2 separate regions of the Homo sapiens genome follow, and region 2 is linked to region 1. The links come from fine-mapping of genetic effects on gene expression. Tissue or cell type: skeletal muscle. Region 1 holds a variant in brackets; the other region holds the start of a gene. All regions are shown on one strand. Distances are between the middles of the regions.

Region 1 (8,470 bases):
AAATGAAAAAACAGGGAGCTTTGATATTGTCTTCTCCTCCTTAAAGTAAAACAACAGGCTGGGTGCAGTGGCTCATGCCTGTAATCCTAGCACTTTGGGAGGCCGAGGCAGGGGGATCACTTGAGGTCAGGAATTTGAGACCAGCCTGGCCAACATAGCGAAACCCCATCTCTACTAAAAAAAAAAATACAAAAATTAGCTGGGCGTGGTAGAGCGCCCGTAAGCCCAGCTACTCAGGAGGCTGAGGAATGAGAACTGCTTTAACCTGAAAGACAGAGGTTGCAGTGAGCTGAGATCACGCCACTGCACTGCAGCCTGGGGATAGAGCGAGACTCCGTCACACACACACACACACGCACACACACACACACACGTATGGCTCCTTTCTCCTCTGGAACTTTGAGGACTGAGGCTTAGGGTGATGGGCTTCAGTCGTGACAGGAGGGACTTGTCAGGACTTGGGAAGATATCTGTGTGTAGGTGTGTCCATGTACTTAGTGGGCATGTGCATGTGGTGTGGCATGGAATAACGACGTTAATTTTCCCGCAGGGTGATTAGTTCCCAGGCAATAACAACAGAAACCAAACAGCATTTCTTCACTATCTGCAGAATTGCGGGAATTTCCGCCATCTGCCTCATCCCAGGCCTCTTGAACAATTGAAAAGGAACCCAGGAAAAAGGGTGGAGAAGAGGGTTAATTTTAGCTGTCAACTTGGGTAGGTCATGGCACCCACATATTTGATCAAACACCAGCCTAAAAACAAACAAACAAACAAACACAATCCTTTGCAGCAACAAAGGTGTTTGATTAAGCACCCCTGTTGTTTGTTTGTGTTTGTTTGTTTTTGAGTCAGAGTCTCACTCTGTCACCCAGGCTGAAGTGCAATGGCACGATCTCAGCTCACTGCAACTTCCCCTAACTGGGTTCAAGCGATTCCCCTGCCTCAGCCTCCCTAGTAGCTGGGACTACAGGCGCCCGCCACCACACCCAGCTAATTTTTGTATTTTCAGTAGAGACGGGGTTTCACCATGTTGGCCAGGCTGGTCTCAAACTCCTGGCCTCAAGTGATCTGCCCTCGTTGGCCTCACAAAGTGCTATAATTACAGGCATGAGCCCCACACTCAGCCTCAAACATCTTTGTTGCTGCAAAGGTTTGTTTTTTTATTTTATTTCCTTTTTTGTTTTTTGAGACAGGGTCTCACTCTGTCACCCAAGCTGAGGTGTGGTGGTGCAGACATGGTTCACTGCAACCTCTGCCTCCTGGGCTTAAGTGATCCTCCCACCACGGCCTCCCAAGTAGCTGGGACTACAGGTGAGCATCACCGTGCCCGGCTAGTTTTTGTATTTTTTGTAGAGGGGGTTTCCTCATGTTTCCCAGGCTGTGCAAAGGTATTTTAAAGATGAAATGAACATTTAAGTCACTAGACTTTGAGTAAAGTAGATGGTCCTCTGTAATGTGGGTGGGCCTCACACAAGCAGTTGAAGGCTTTATGAGAAAACTGGCTGAGGTTCCCCTGAAGAAGGAGGAATTCTGCCAGCAGACTGTCTTGGGATTTGATCTGCAGCATCAGTGCTTTCCTGGGTCTCCAGCCTGCCAGCCTACCCTGCGGACTGTGGGCTCACCAACAGCACTGTGTGAGCCTCCAACAGGACTGTGTGAGCCAATTCCCTGGCACAAATCTCTGAATATAAATCTCTACACGTCCTGTCGGCTCTGTTCCCTCCAGCGCATCCTTGCACACATGCTTCTGGCTGCCCCGTGACGCCGGCTTTCCCCCTTCACTGGTCGCATGGCGGCTTTGCTTCCCTGTCCCCCACCCCGGGTGCATGGGCTCTGCTGTATCTTGTCTCTTCCCATGTAGGCCGGTCCTACCAAGTACAGGGGTCGTTTTCACACATGCTGTCATTGTCTCATATCTCTCCGTCCCCTGCTCAGACACACTCTGCCCCTTGAGCTGTCCTTGAGCTGATGACTACCAAGCATCGCCGACTTGCACTCAGCTCTCAGGGACGTCAGCATCACAGCTCCTTCTGGTTTCCTAACTCCTCTTTGAAAGACATTTCTAGGGGAAGCCATCGTTTCTAATTACCTTCAGAGGTTATCACCAAAACCTCCTTTCTGAAAAAAATTAGTACATTTATACAGTAAGTCCTCACTTGACATCATAGGTAGAGTCTTTGAAACTGTGACTTTAAGCAACGTGTACAGCAGGTCCTTGAATAACATTGGTTATAATATCGATGAGGGACAAACATCGGTTTCATTATACATTGTTTTGCTTAAAGTTACAGTTTCCAAGAACCTATCTATGACATTAAATGAGGACTTCGTGTATATTCAAATGGATTCTCTTTCTGAGTCTCTAGATATAGACTATAATGTGAATTCTAATCATCACGTTATTTCCTGAGCTCCTGTATGCTCAGTTATATGCCTTAGTTTTGATTTTGGGTATGCTAATCCTCATGTTAAGTTCCCCACCATTTGGAAACTGAAACATCGGATGCTCTATCAGCAGCCTAGGGATGCTCACATTTAATTAAATGCAGCTGGGAAGATACTTCTTTAATAATTGTTTAGTCTATTATCACTTATCAAGTAAGTATATAGCAGCTCTAATCTTCAGGAATAAATGACTTTCACCTCCCCTCTTTTCTGTAAAATGCACAAATTGCCATGAGCTCTTCTTGGTATTGGAGCTACTTTTCTTTTGAGGGTGACAATCCGTTCCTTTACTACAGTACTTGAAAACTTGTCCTGGAAAATGACCCAAGAGACCAGGGGAAAATGCAGTGAGCCTCCTGTTTGAGGGTGACACAGTCAGTGCTTGTCTTTACCTCCCTCCCTAGCTCCCAAGATCTAATGAAAAGGATACACAACATATGTTCTTAAGAGAATCAATCCATTCTCCATCACAGAGCTGGGAAAGAAGAAAGGCTGTCACCATTAAAGCAGAATTTGGTGGGGGTGGTGGTACAGATTTCTGGAATATTGAAAACAAATGGCCTCAATTTATGAAGAAACTAAGGCAGAGAGTTCCACCACTAAACACAGGCATTGTCAGAGGCGTGCCATTCTCCCAAACAGAGCCCCAGAGAAACTCCAAGCTCAGGGTCAACAGAAATGAACACAGACCTTAGTTAAAAGGCTGACTGCCGATTGTCATGTCTCGCTGCCACGTTGCATATAAAAATAGGAAAACATAAACATCAAGTAGAGATGTGTGTAAAGGATACTAATAGTCAGAGAAACACACATGGCCCTTATGCACATAAAAAGATGCTCAAATTCTCTAGTAGTCTAGTAGATTAGTGCAAAAAGAATGATGACAACATACCATATTTTACTCATTTGAAAGCTGATACTATCCTGTTTCAGTAAATGTATGGGTGAATGGTCTCTGCCTGTTGGTAGGAATCTAAAGGTATAGTTGTTTCTGTTTTTTTTTTTTTCCTTAGTTGCTCCAGAGCTAACTCCTCGGCAGTGCACCCAGAGTGAGTCTAAAAGTACAGTCTTCTGGGATGACAATTTGTCACCATCTAACAAAATGTCCCATGTCTTCGTACAGCAATTGTTCTTTGACTTAACAGAAATATTGACACATGCAGAAGAATACAAGTGCAGGAATATACCACATAACATGGTTTGCAATGGCTAATAATTAGAAACAATTTATAGAGAAATGGATAAATTACAGTTTATTTATAGTAAGGAAAACTATGTTTAAAAGATCTGACAGGGAAAGACCCTTAAGATATATTGTTTAAAAAAATAAGCAATGTGCACCCGGGATAATCCTAATGAACCCAAAGTAATCACAAGTGTACTTACAAGAAGGAGGCAGTGGAGTTAGGGTCAGAGAGAAGATGTAAGGATGGGCACAGAGGTCAGAGAGAGGCGAAGATGCTTTGAAGATTGAGGAAGGGGCCTTGAGTAAAGAAATGCAAAAGCCAGGAAAGGCAAGGAGACAAAATCTTCCCTGGAGCCTATACCTCTTTTGTTGTTGTTGATTTTCAAACAATTACGAACATACTGAAATTTTCAAGAATAGTAGGACTTTTTTTCCCTGAACCATGTGAGAGTAATGCTGACACAAAGCCCCATCATTCTGAATTCTTTAGTTTGTAATTCCTACAAACAAGGAGATTCTCCTACACAAGCAAACATACCACCAGCAAAATCAGGAAATTAACAATGAAATCTTCCTACCACCTACTCTACAGATTCCACCCCAGTTTCTCCAATTGCACCAGTCGTATCCTTTATAGTCAAAGGATCCAGGACAGGGTCTCCCGCTGCTTTCACTGGTCATGTCTCTACTCACTTTCAATCTAGAGGCTGTCTTCTCGCTGCCTTCTATCAGGTGGCAAATGATTCTGATTTGTCCGTTTCTGCTGAGATCAACTTGATTAAGGTGGTATTTGTCAGATTTCTCCACTGTGCATGACTAATGTTTTGGAATCAGTAAGGAAACGTGGGACTATTTAAATATCCCATTTCTTTCTTTGTTTCTTCTTTCTTTTCTTTCCTTTCCCTCCCTCCCCCTCTCTCTCTCTTTCTCTCTCTCTCTCTCTCTTTCTCTCTCTCTCTCTTTCTTTCTGATAGTCTTACTCACTTGCCCAGGCTGGAGTACAGTGGCGTGATCTCAGTTCACTGCAACCTCCACCTTCCAGGTTCAAGCAATCTTCCTTCCTCAGCCTCCCGAGTAGCTGGGATTACAGGTGCCCGCCACCACGCCCGGCTAATTTTTGTATTTTTAGTAGAGACTGGGTTTCGTCATGTTGGCCAGGCTGGTCTGGAACTCCTGACCTCAGGTGAACCGCCCACCTCGGCCTCCCAAAGTGCTAGGATGACAGGCGTGAACCACCGTGCCCAGCCTCAATATTCCATTTCTTATCAAACATTGACTCACTGATTTTAGCTTCCATTGATATTTTTGGATGATTTAATTATTGCCTTATTAATGACCAAACAGTGATTTTTCTAACTGCATCATTTTTTTCTCCATTTACTTGTTGCCACTTGCATTAGTGTCCTATTGTGTGTCATACTGTATTAGTGCTGCTATAACAAACTACCATAACCTTAGCGGGTTAAAACAACTTAAATGTATTATTTT[G/A]TAACTCTGGAGGCCAGACGTTCCCCATCGGTGTCACTAGGTTAAAATCAAGGCACTGGCAGGCCTGTGTTCCTCTTAAAGGCACCAGGGAAGAAGCCGTTCCCTTGCCTTCTAGCTTCTGGAGGACGCCTGCATTCCTGGGCTATGGCCCCCTCCTCTATCTTCAAGCCATCAGCATAGCACCTTCCCTCCTCTCTGACCTCTGCTTTCATCCGTTTATCCTCTCTCTGATTCTGCTCCTCATGGCTGCTTTGTGTAAGCGCCCTTGTGACCACATTGGGGACCTCCCCCCCATAATCCAGGATTATACACACTCATCTGCATTTAAATCTACATATTATACATAATATAGACACATATTTGTATAATATATTATATCTTTATTTATCTATATAATTTTTTTGAGACATGGTGTCATTCTGTCACCCAGGCTGGAATGCAGTGGCACGATCTTGGCTTACTGCAGCCTCAACCTCCTGGGCTCAAGCGATCCTCCCACCTTAGCCTCCCAAGTAGCTGGAACTACAGGTGTGCACCACCACACCTGGCTAATTCTTAATTTTTTTGTAAAGAAGGGACCTCACTGTGTTGCCCAGGCTGGTCTCAAACTCCTGGCCTTAAGTGATCCTCCGACCTTGGCCTCCCAAAATGTTGGGATTAAAGGCAGGTGTGAGCCACTGCACCCGACCCTTATCTATATATTCAAAACCATGAGTTTGCACCAATGCCTTTAATTCCAATCCAACACCATAAGGTTCAGATTAGTTGTCTTATCATTCACCCTGCAGCTCATTTCCAACAATGAAAAGCCTGACTCCCACCACTTTCAATATGTTTCACTATTGGACTAATCCCTCTTGTGTGTGTTCAGTCTCCCCTCCTGGCCAGACCCCTCCACTCTCCTCACACTACGCGGCCTGCCAGGTGAAAACAATACAGGGACTGCCACTAAGCCCTACTTTTTTTCTTTTATTTTTCTTTCTTTTTTTCCCCTCCCTCCTTCCTCTTTCTTTTCCCTCCCTTCCTCCCTCCCTCCTTTCCTTCCTTTCTTTTCTTTCTCTTTCTTTTTGTTCCTTCCTTCTTCTCTTTTTCTTTCTTTTCCTTCCTTCCTTCCTCTCTCTCTTTCTGTCTCCTTCCTTCCTTCCCTTCCTTCCCTCCCCTTCCCTCCCCTTCCTTCCTTCCTTTCTTCTTTCTTTCTTTCCTTCCTCTTTCTTTTTTTTCAAGGTCAGTCTGGCTCTGTCACCCAGGCTGGAGTACAGAGTGGCCTGATCTTGGCTCAAAGCAGCCTTGACCACCCTAGGCTCAAGCTATCCTCCTGCCTCAGCCTCCTGAGCAGCTGGGACCACAGGGCTGCACTACCACACCGGGATAATTTTTGTGTCTTTTGTAGAGACGGGGTTTCACCATGTTGCCTAGGTTGGTCTCGAACTCCTGAGCTCAAATGATCCACTCACCTTGGCCTCCCAAAGTGCTGGGATTACAGGCATGAGCCACTGGGCCCAGCCTGTTTTTTTCTTAAATACTACTACTTAGAACTAAATGTGAAATCATCCAAATATCATATTATCCTAAATTTGATTAAGATAATTACTGTTGGCTGGAAAAGGTAGTATTACATATGGCTTAATTCCTTTACTGTATAGTCCACAGAGATTGAGACTTTAATCTTCACATTGAGTGGAAAATAAGAGAGAATATGTTCAGATGACAGTAAAATAAAGTCAAATTAGACTTTCAGACAAAATTACATTAAATATATTTTGACATTGAAACAAGTGACCAAGTGCAGTTGAGGAATTTCTTTGACTCATGACATTTACAGTAAGAGTAAATATAGAGGCCGGGCACAGTGGCTCACGCCTGTAATCCCAGCACTTTGGGAGGCAGAGGTGGTTAGATCACAAGATCAGGAGATCCAGACCATCCTGACTAACACGGTGAAACCCCGTCTCTACTAAAAAATACAAAAAATTAGCCCGGCGTGGTGGCGGGCGCCTGTAGTCCCACCTACTCGGGAGGCTGAGGCAGGAGAATCACTTGAACCCGGGAGGCGGAGGTTCCGGTGAGCCGAGATCGCACCACTGCACACCAGCCTGGTGACACAGCGAGGCTCCATCTCAAAAAAAAAAAAAGAAAAAAAAGAAAAAGAAAAACTCAGCTGTTAAACATTTCTTGCTCAAATAACTTCTGTAAAATGCTTAATAGAATAAATAATCGTATCAGTCAGGGTTCTCTGGAGAAACAGAACCAATAAGAGATATATATGTATGTGTGTATGTATACATACACATACAAAGAGACAGCGAGAGAGATTTTAAAGAATTGCTCAAGTAATTGAGGAGGCCGGCAAGTCTGAAATCTCTAGGACAGGCCCACAGGTTGGAAATTCAGGCAGGAGTTGATGTTACCGTCTCGAGTCCGAAATCTGCAAAGCAGGCCAAGCCCTCCGGAAACTCACTCAGAGTTTCTGTGCTGCAGGCTCGAGGCAGAATTCCTTTTTTCTCGGGAAAGGCTCAGTCTCCGCTCTGAAAGCCTTCAGCTGATTGCATGAAGCTCACCCACATTCAAGAGGATAATCTACTTTACTCAGAGTCAGCTGATTGTACGTATCAATCACATCTACACAATACCTTCACAGCAACATCCAAGTTAGTGTTTAACCAAGCAGCTGGGCCCCACAGCCAAGCCAAGTTGAGACATAATGAACCATCACTGTCTCTGTAACTATCTGTTTTCAAAGAAACATTGATTTTCTTTCGCAATCACTTCCAGAAGTTTGACTTAGTATTTCCTACACACTGTTTAACTAACATTGAATTAACTCTTAGTTCCTAATAAAGGTTTGCTAACACATACATACAAATCTTATTAGAAAATTGATTTGCATGTGTTAGAAAACATATTTATTGCATTATTTTGGAACAGTTTTAGTTTTTGCATTATCTCTTCTGTGGTCATATATTGGATTTTCTTTGATGCTTTTCACTGATGACAGCTATTTGGGGGAAAACATAGATGATTTTTACAAAACGCGTCACTGAAAGGGTTTGGGCAGACAACAGTGCGTCTTTTGGTGCAGGCTGGCACTCACACGCAGAGATGCCGCAAGATCAGTCTCCACCCCTCAGACCTCTGCGGAGGGACGCTTGGGTCCGGCTAGTTGGACTAAGACAGCCCCGGACTGCAAGGAAAGGCCTCAAGGCCCCGCCCCCACTCATTTGGGTTCTCTTTTTAAAGGGCAAACCCGAGTGGCCTTGCCAGGGGGAACAAAATGTCTGCTTGGGCATCGGGCAGGCTGGGCTTAGGTGACAGCTGTTCAGGCAGTTCGCTGTCTGGAGAGCCTGTTGC
Region 2 (8,470 bases), 43 kb after region 1:
ACACTGTCTCCTAATCTCATGTATCATTCTTCTTAAATCCATCCTATGGGTCACGTCAGTGTCCATCTTATAGTACATATAAATGTCCTAGGGCATTCTGCACAACATGCTCTAAATCACTGCCATTGTGAATGAGATATTTAGGAGAGTATAGGGAAATTCTCGACCTCCCATTTGCTAAGGAGAGAGTAGCAACTGGATTCAAACCGAAGGGCCTAGGACTTAGCTCCACTGTTAACTTTGGACATTTGAGGTCCATGGTTATTACATACTTGGAGATGGTGTAAGGACTGTTAAGCTTGAAAGGGAATTGAGAACAGAAACTTATTTTCTGTGATGGTCATCCATCGATCATGCATAAGAATCATTTCTAATAGTTTAAACTGTGACAATGTTAATAATAACTGTAAATCTTTTACAAAAAAAACTTCCCCATTCCGCTACTTATAATTATTTGTGTGTTTTTTTTGTTTTTTTTTTTGAGTCCCGCTCTGTCGCCCAGACTGGAGTGCAGTGGCACAATCTCTGCTCACTGGAACCTCCGCCTCCTGGGTTCAAGTGATTCTCCTGCCTCAGCCTCCCAAGTAGCTGGGACTACAGGCATGCACCATCATGCGTGGCTAATTTTTGTATTTTTAGTAGAGACAGGGTTTCACCTTGTTGGCCAGGCTGGTCTAGAACTCCAGACTTGAGGTGATCCGCCTGCCTCGGCCTCTCAAAGTTCTGGGATTAAAGGTGTGAGCCACTGTGCCCCGCCTACTTATAATCATTTGAATAAAAGGTTTATATGACTTATTTACAAAATAAAATACTGTTACTATTTTTTTTTTGAGACAGAGTCTCGCTCTGTCGCAGTGGCTTGATCTCGGCTCACTGCAAGCTCTGCCTCCCGGGTTCACGCCATTCTCCTGCCTCAGCCTCCCGAGTAGCTGGGACTACAGGCGCCCGCCACCATGCCCGGCTAATTTTTTGTATTTTTAGTAGAGACAGTGGGGTTTCACCATGTTGGCCAGGATGGTCTCGATCTCCTGACCTCGTGATCCGCCCACCTTGGCCTCCCAAAGTGCTGGGATTACAGGTGAGAGCCACCGCGCCCAGCCCTACTGTTACTATTTTATGTTAAAGATAAGATTAAATAATTTTTAAGGTTTTTTCCATTTCTAGTATCTTATGATTCTGGTACAATAAAAACAAGTTTATCTTGGTTTTTTAAGCTTCTGAATTAAGTTTTCAAACGTTAAAAATGACTGATGTTAGGGTGATGTTTCCATTTAAATGCTACAGAAAATACAGACATAATAAATTTAAACAAGTTTAAAAAACAAAATAAGCATTTTTAGCCACTTTCAGTCTTTTCTAGAAAAGTTCTAAGTGCTCTTATTCATGCCATGTCTTACCCTATATTGAAAAGAAACTGGACTTAATTCCCGGAAACTTTCATCTCCTTCATAAATAGAGCGTAATGCTTCTAGTTCCATCTGAAATAAAGAACTGAATGAGTTTTGTTTAGTGGTATAAATGAATTAGAAATAGAGGGTCTTTACTTTCTCATTCAAGCCCACTCAACTATGTAAAAGCTTGACTAACTTATATAACCTTAGATACTTACCACATAGGTGCATGCAGCAACACATGACAATATTACTACCAATGATACTTACTTTCAAACTCTGTGTCAGGGACTACTAAGCACTGTACAATGTATGATCGCGCTGACTTCTCAAATCAACCCTGTCAAGAGGCTCCTATTATTTTCTCCTTCCTAGGGAAGCAAGGAAGTCTCCCTGTAAAGCCACTCCAGAGCAAGCGCTCTTAGAACTTGGCTAAAGACGAACCTGGGTGCAAAGAGCATTAAACCTAAAGATAAGAACTATGAAAAACAATACTTTCCCATTATTTACATACATTTCTTTTATATGTAATCCTTCCCACAGTGATACAAAGCTCTAAAAAACACCTAAGGGCAAGAAAAAGAACTTAAGAAAAAGGCTGACAAGTATCTACCCAAGATGAGACAGGACTGTCAGAGAAAATGTAACTAGTAATCCTTGCTTGGACATAGTTCTTAGAACATTTTGGTATTACAACTGAGAAGTTCATCACTGTGATCACCGATGAATACCTGAGAAAAGAAGTAAAGCAAGACTGCACTTGGGTACACGTTTAAGTTTTTCAAAAAGATGCATGTCATGAATTCTACAAACTAAAGATGGTGAAAGTGGGCTTGATCTACAGTCAAAATTTTAGAATAGAAATTATTGGCTGGGCGCGGTGGCTCACATCTGTAATCCCAGCACTTTGGGAGGCCGAGGCGGGCGGATCACCTGAGGTCAGGAGTTCGAGGTCAGCCTGGCCAACACGGTGAAACCCCATCTCTACTAAAGACACAAAAATTAGCCAGGTGTGGTGATGGGCGCCTGTAGTCCCAGCTACTCAGGAGGCTGAGGCAAGAGAATCGCTTGAACCCAGGAGGCGGAGGTTGCAGTGAGCCGAGATCGGGCCACTGCAATCCAGCCTGGGCTACAGAGCGAGGCTCCGTCTCAAAAATAGCAACAACAACAGCAAAAAGACATTGTTGAAGAAACAGTGTGTGAGGAACTGGGACATTAAGGAGTAGACCCTAAGACCTAGTAAGTATATGAAAAACAAGATATACCCTTCTTAGATAGGGAAACTTGATTGGCACAATGAAGAAAGGCATAAAACACCGACTATATAGATTTCAGCCAGGCTCCACAGGTTTCTCTTGCTACCTTTACAGAAAAAACAAAAAAAAACAAAATACAGAAATTCAAGCCGGATTCAAGAATAACTAAGATTAGATTGGAACAAAAACCTTACTCAAGATATAGTACTACTCCTTCTGTCCCTAATCCTTTCCCATATTTTAATTTATGACTTGGACAGGTACAAAAATAGGAGGCAAGTTTATTAAATTTGTGGATGACAATTTGTTGGGACAGTGAATAATGCTGATGGCTGAATAAGAATCCAAAAAGTCTTTGAAAAGCAAGCTAATGATGAAATTTAGCAGGGTAAGTAGAACTTGTATCAATACTCAGATACCTAAATGTAGAAGTTGAAGATGAAAGACAAATTGCTTTGTATAAAGCACTTAAAAGATTTCAGTTGACAGTAAATTTAACTAGACAAAACAGCAAGATGCCACAATTTTGAAACAGGACATTTAAAAAATTAAAATCTGTCCACAAACACGTGATTCCAGGATAGTGAAGAGATTAACAAAGAATGGATATATGAAGACAAGCTAAAAGGAACCACTTCCTCAGAGAAGGTCTGAGAAACTGGGCAGGAAACTATCTTCAAAGATCAGAACATCGGTCATCTGAAAGAAGAATGAAATTTTCTTGTTAAACTGGAGATTCCTGGGCCCACCACAGAAATTCTGATTCAGTAGGTCTGGGGTGGAGTGCACGCATCTGTTTTCTAGCAACCATCTAAATGGTTCTAAGGTAGGGGACTATGGTCCAACTCTGAGAAACATTACACTGTATGTTCTTTGCTTTGCAGGGAGAAGAAGCTATTAACGCATTCACTTAGAAATTCACCCGGCAAGAATATTTTAGAAGAGATTCAGATATCAACTAGCTAGCTTGTTGGACTTTGGGTCCTTTAAAGGTTAACTTCCAATCCAGAGATTCTATTACATTTATCATGTAAAAGTAGTAAGTTTCAAGCATTATACTTTAAATTAACAGTGAACTTATCTACCACCCAATAAGACCTGGTTTCTAGTCCCGATTCTACCACGTACTTACTGTGCAGCCCTGCGGCTATCATCGACCCACCTATCAAAGTTAGAAGGTTCCCCTACAGATGGCCCGTAGCACCCACCCCCCAACTCTAATATTATATGATTCAATGTCAAAATGGCATCTCACAAGGAAATATTTGAGCATAAACCATAAATTCAGGTGGTACATGAATGCTCAAAACAGACAGATGGGTAAAAGATTTCCCCAAACAATATGGACAGAAACTCAGATGCACCACCAGTGTCATTTTCTTCCATGAGAAATGTAACTAACTCAATTAGCCCTCTACTAGCCAAGAGATTTAAAGATGACCAGACTAAAATTTAAAGGTGATCAGCCTAACTCAGTAAACAGGCACTGAACACATGGGATTCAAGGAGAGCCAAGAGCACTGGATCGTGCACCAAGGACGCTCATCCCTGTTATTAAGTAACCAGGGGAGACTCCCGGATTTGCAAAAATGAAAAATGAGGGGGGAAGAGTGGCAGAGGCGGACTCCTGGCCATTCACGCGCGCTTGGGTGGGACGCCGGTGAACTCGGGGCACCCCGGCCGGCTCCGAGGGCACAGGGCACGTGCCGGGCAGGCTGTCCGGGCACCAGGTCTCACGGGGGCCCGGGGCTGCGCGCCGCGCCCGCGCTGGGAGAGGGCCCTGAGCCGGGGGGCTCACCTCCTGGTCCTCGTTGGCACTCATCGCGCCGGTCGCGGGGCGCCTCCTGAGCGGACGGCGTTCGCAACAACGAAGAGAAAGCGAAGGCAGCGGCCCAGAGGCCGGGCGTCCCCCTTTCGCGCCTCGGCTGTGGGGGCGGCACAGTCTTGGCACTGGCAGACGCCAACTGCGCGCGCCCCGAGCCTCGGCAGCGCCCAGCCGCCGGCAGTGGGCTGTGGGCTACGAGCCGGAGCCGCGGCTGGTGGGGCCTGGGAAGTGCAGCGTCTCCCTGACGCTTGGAGGAGCGGCGTAAAGTTCCGGGACAGCGATTGGTGTAGAGCGCGGTCACTCAGGCCCAGAAAGTGCTTCCTGTGCCGGGGGAGGTGGGTACAGGGAAGTCTCGCCTGTTGGAACTGGCTGTGGGGCTGCGGCGGTGGGGACGGGCCACGGCGTTCTGTGACATCCCCCCGCCTCCCCTCGTCTTCTCCCGGCTGGCGGCGACCGGCCTCAGCTGCAGCGGGCCCGGGGCGTGGGGCCTGGGTGAGTCCGGGCCCGGAGACCCGCGGGGCCAGGCGGGACCGCCGAGGAAGAGAGCTAGCTCTTAACAATGCTGGTTTGGGGGCCTGCGTTTTGCAATCCCATCGACGGGTGCAATCCTGGCACTTCTCTTTTAGACCCGAGGAAAGACGCACCCGTTTCTAGGGCCTCCCAGGTTTAAGACGGGGGAATAAGAGGAGGAAGATATCTGCCTTTAGGGACTGCAAGGTTATTTCTCTACCTTTCCTCACTGGAGCTACCAGAACAGATACTGGGACCATGGGGACGGTGTTTCTCCTACGTTGGATTGTTGCTTCTCATCTTTAACATCGAAACATCATTTCGTCCCCACACTGTCGTTCCTCTTTTGTTCGTTTTGTAGTTGAACATCTCTGAATCCCATTCTTAGCAGCCTTGTGTCCTAACACCCTGAACTTCCAGTTAGTTAAAAGAAAAAAAAAGTAACCACATTAGGTTTTGGGGTTTTTTTAGTTGCCAATTTGATTGGGTCACCTTTCTTATCTTTCACGCTAGTTTCCAGTTTACTTCCCTTGCATTACTTGATCTCCCATCCATTATTCACCTTCTATAGCTGCGCCTCCTTTCGTGTATAGTTTCGTTGGTTGCTCCATTGGATATCTGAAAATTTCTCCTTCCAGCCTGTCATTGAAATCCATTCGATCTGCGCCTGTGCGTTATCGGGGTTCTCATTCAAATTCCTTTGCTGCAGAATAAGCACGACCATTTCAGGTGACATAGGAGAATGTGGCAAGACTTTCTGATACAATTTTCGTGCAGCAATTTTGGGACACATTTCCCATAATTTAGATCTCTGCTGTCCAGTTCTGTAGCCAGTAGCTACATCAGGCATTTGAAATAGGCTAGTCTGAATTGAGATGTGCTGTGAGTGTGAAATACACACCAGATTTTGAAGACTCAGTACAAAAAAAGGTAAAATATGTCATTAATAACTTTTATATTATTGTCAGTATGATAATATTTTGGACATACTGTACTGCGTTAAATTGAATATTAAAATGAATTCCATCCACGTTTTACTTTTTAATATGACTGCTAGAAATTTTTAATTTATTTATGTGACTTGTATTTCTATTGGATGACAGTCATTTTTAGTTCCTCTTATTTCAACTCCATATTTAAAGACCACAGCTATGTCTTTTGGGCCTCTGGAGTTATTACAGGAAATGGCCTCTAGTCTAGACTCGTTCATATTAAGCAAAGGGGCCCGTATTGTATTTTGGTCACTTGTTTTTTGTTGTTGTTGTTGAGACGGAGTCTTGCTCTGTTGCCCAGGCTGGAGTGCAGTGGTGCGATCTCGGCTCACTGAAATCTCCGCCTCCCGGGTTCAAGCCATTCTCCTGCCTCAGCCTCCCGAGTAGCTGGGACTATAGGCACGCATCACCATGCCCGGCTAATTTTTGTATTTTTAGTAGAGACGGGGTTTCACCCTATTGGCCAGGCTGGTTTTGAACCGTTGACCTCGTGAATCGCCCGCCTTGGCCTCCCAAAGTGCTGGGATTACAGGCGTGAGCCGCTGTACCCAGCCTGGTCACCCCTTTTTAATTTTCATTCCTACATTACCCAGAACTAGACTGTTTCTTTCTCTGAACATGCAATCCTTTGCCCTCATAACTTAATCCTGTCCTAAAAATATTTAAACAATTCTAAAACAATCTGTTGTAGACATTTCTGGCAAGCTTTGCAAATCATTTATTGAATACCTGTTGTTCTTTCAGTATGTAAACATGAGAAGACTAATAGTCTTTCCTAAATTAACCTTTCAGTTGAAAATATTCCATGTTTTGGGGATTAGGTATTAGCCTAAGTGTGCCTCACTTTTCACAAAGATTGTGTTAGACTTCTCCATAATATACTGGTATACTGGTGTAGATTACCTTTTTTTTTTTTTTTTTTTTTTTTTGAGACGGAGTCTCCTCGCTCTGTCGCCCAGGCTGGAGTGCAGTGGCGCGATCTCCGCTCACTGCAAGCTCCGCCTCCCGGGTTCACGCCATTCTCCTGCCTCAGCCTCCCGAGTAGCTGGGACTACAGGCGCCCACCACCATACTCGGCTAATTTTTTGTGTTTTTAGTAGAGACGGGGTTTCACCATGTTAGCCAGGATGGTCTCGATCTCCTGACCTTGTGATCCGCCCGCCTCGGCCTCCCAAAGTGCTGGGATTACAGGCGTGAGCCACCGCGCCCGGCCAGATTACCTTTTAAAAGAGCCTCATGACACATTCTTTTTCAAATAAGATTATATTTAAAATGTAGTGATAATTTTGTTTGGAATAACTTTTTTTTTTTTTTTTTTTTTTGTGGCACAATCTTGCTCTGTCACCCAGGCTGGAGTGCAGTGGCACAATCATAGTTCACTGTAACTTTAAACACCTAGACTCAAGTGATCCTCCCATCTCAGCCTCCCAAGTGGCTGGGACTACAAGTGAGCACCACCATGCCCGGCTATTTTCTTTTTTATTTCTTTTAGAGACAGGATCTCACTATGTTTCCCAGGCCAGTCTTGAACTCCTGGCCTCAACAATCCTCTGGCCTTGTCCTCCAAAAGTGCTGGGATTATAGGCATGAGCCACTTGTGCCTTACCTGAATTCTCTGTAATATGCTGGTATAGATTATCTTTTAAAAGAACCTCATTTGGGAGGCCAAGGCTGGCAATCGCCTGAGGTCACGAGATCAAGACCATCCTGGCCAACATGGTGAAACCCTGTCCACTAAAATACAAAAAATTAGCTGGGTGTGGTGGTGCATGCCTGTAGTCCCAGCTACTAGGGAGGCTGAGGCAGGGGAATCACTTGAACCCGGGAGGTGGAGGTTGTAGTGAGCTGATATTGGGCCAGTGCACTCCAGCCTGGTGACAGAGTGATACTCCGTCTCAAAAAAAAAAAAAAAAAAGAACCTCATGTTGTTACATCCTTTTGCAAGTAAGATTATATTAAAAATATAATGACAGTCTTGTTCGGGATAAACATAGTTTTATATACTTATAAAGTCAGGGCATACGTTAGATTTATTATGGACTGATTCTTAGCTAAAGGACGCAGTGGAAACATCCTCCGAGAGGTTTCCATTCATTGTTAGTTTTTCCCTTACAGATTTTTCTTTAAAGAGTAAATTTTATATTGTGGGAAATGAGACAACATAGCTACTATTTAGATAATTACATAAATTAAAGGCTATTTTAATAATATCCTAGGTATTCAGAAATTCAATATTAGCAATTACAGAGAAATTAGGGGAAGTTTATTATATGTAAGTCAACTGTTTTTCTTTTATATTTTTCTTTCAATATATTTTTCTTTTATAGTTGAAATAGATCATGTAGATCTATTTTAATTTTATCACCTTCTTGCTTTCTTGGTCTACTAATTTCAAAGTTCTGTGTGCATTTTGAGACATTACTGAAAATGCCGATTTGTCTTAAAGTTGACTTCATTTTTAACATGAAAGATTTTTTCTTAAATGTCATATAGTTA

What was found. PIP is the estimated chance that this variant, and not a neighbour inherited with it, causes the effect.
Region 2: RWDD4 starts here. The variant in region 1 is fine-mapped to the expression of RWDD4 in skeletal muscle (GTEx, PIP 0.98).

Annotation. Positions count from the first base shown.
Region 1 is chr4:183,611,068-183,619,537 of GRCh38, forward strand. No RefSeq gene overlaps it. Among named protein-coding and RNA genes, the nearest start is that of RWDD4, 44 kb to the right of the region's middle. The variant G/A (reference allele first, on the strand shown) is at 5,123.
Region 2 is chr4:183,654,484-183,662,953 of GRCh38, forward strand. RWDD4 (RWD domain containing 4) reads right to left here and starts at 4,702. Exons shown (of 8, transcript NM_152682.4): 1 at 4,446-4,702; 2 at 1,398-1,478. The coding sequence starts at 4,469. It overlaps TRAPPC11 (trafficking protein particle complex subunit 11), which reads left to right and starts at 4,810. Exons shown (of 30, transcript NM_021942.6): 1 at 4,810-4,964. RefSeq lists enhancers at 3,909-4,697, 4,612-4,741, 4,698-5,485 and silencers at 4,217-4,437, 4,252-4,461, 4,832-5,121.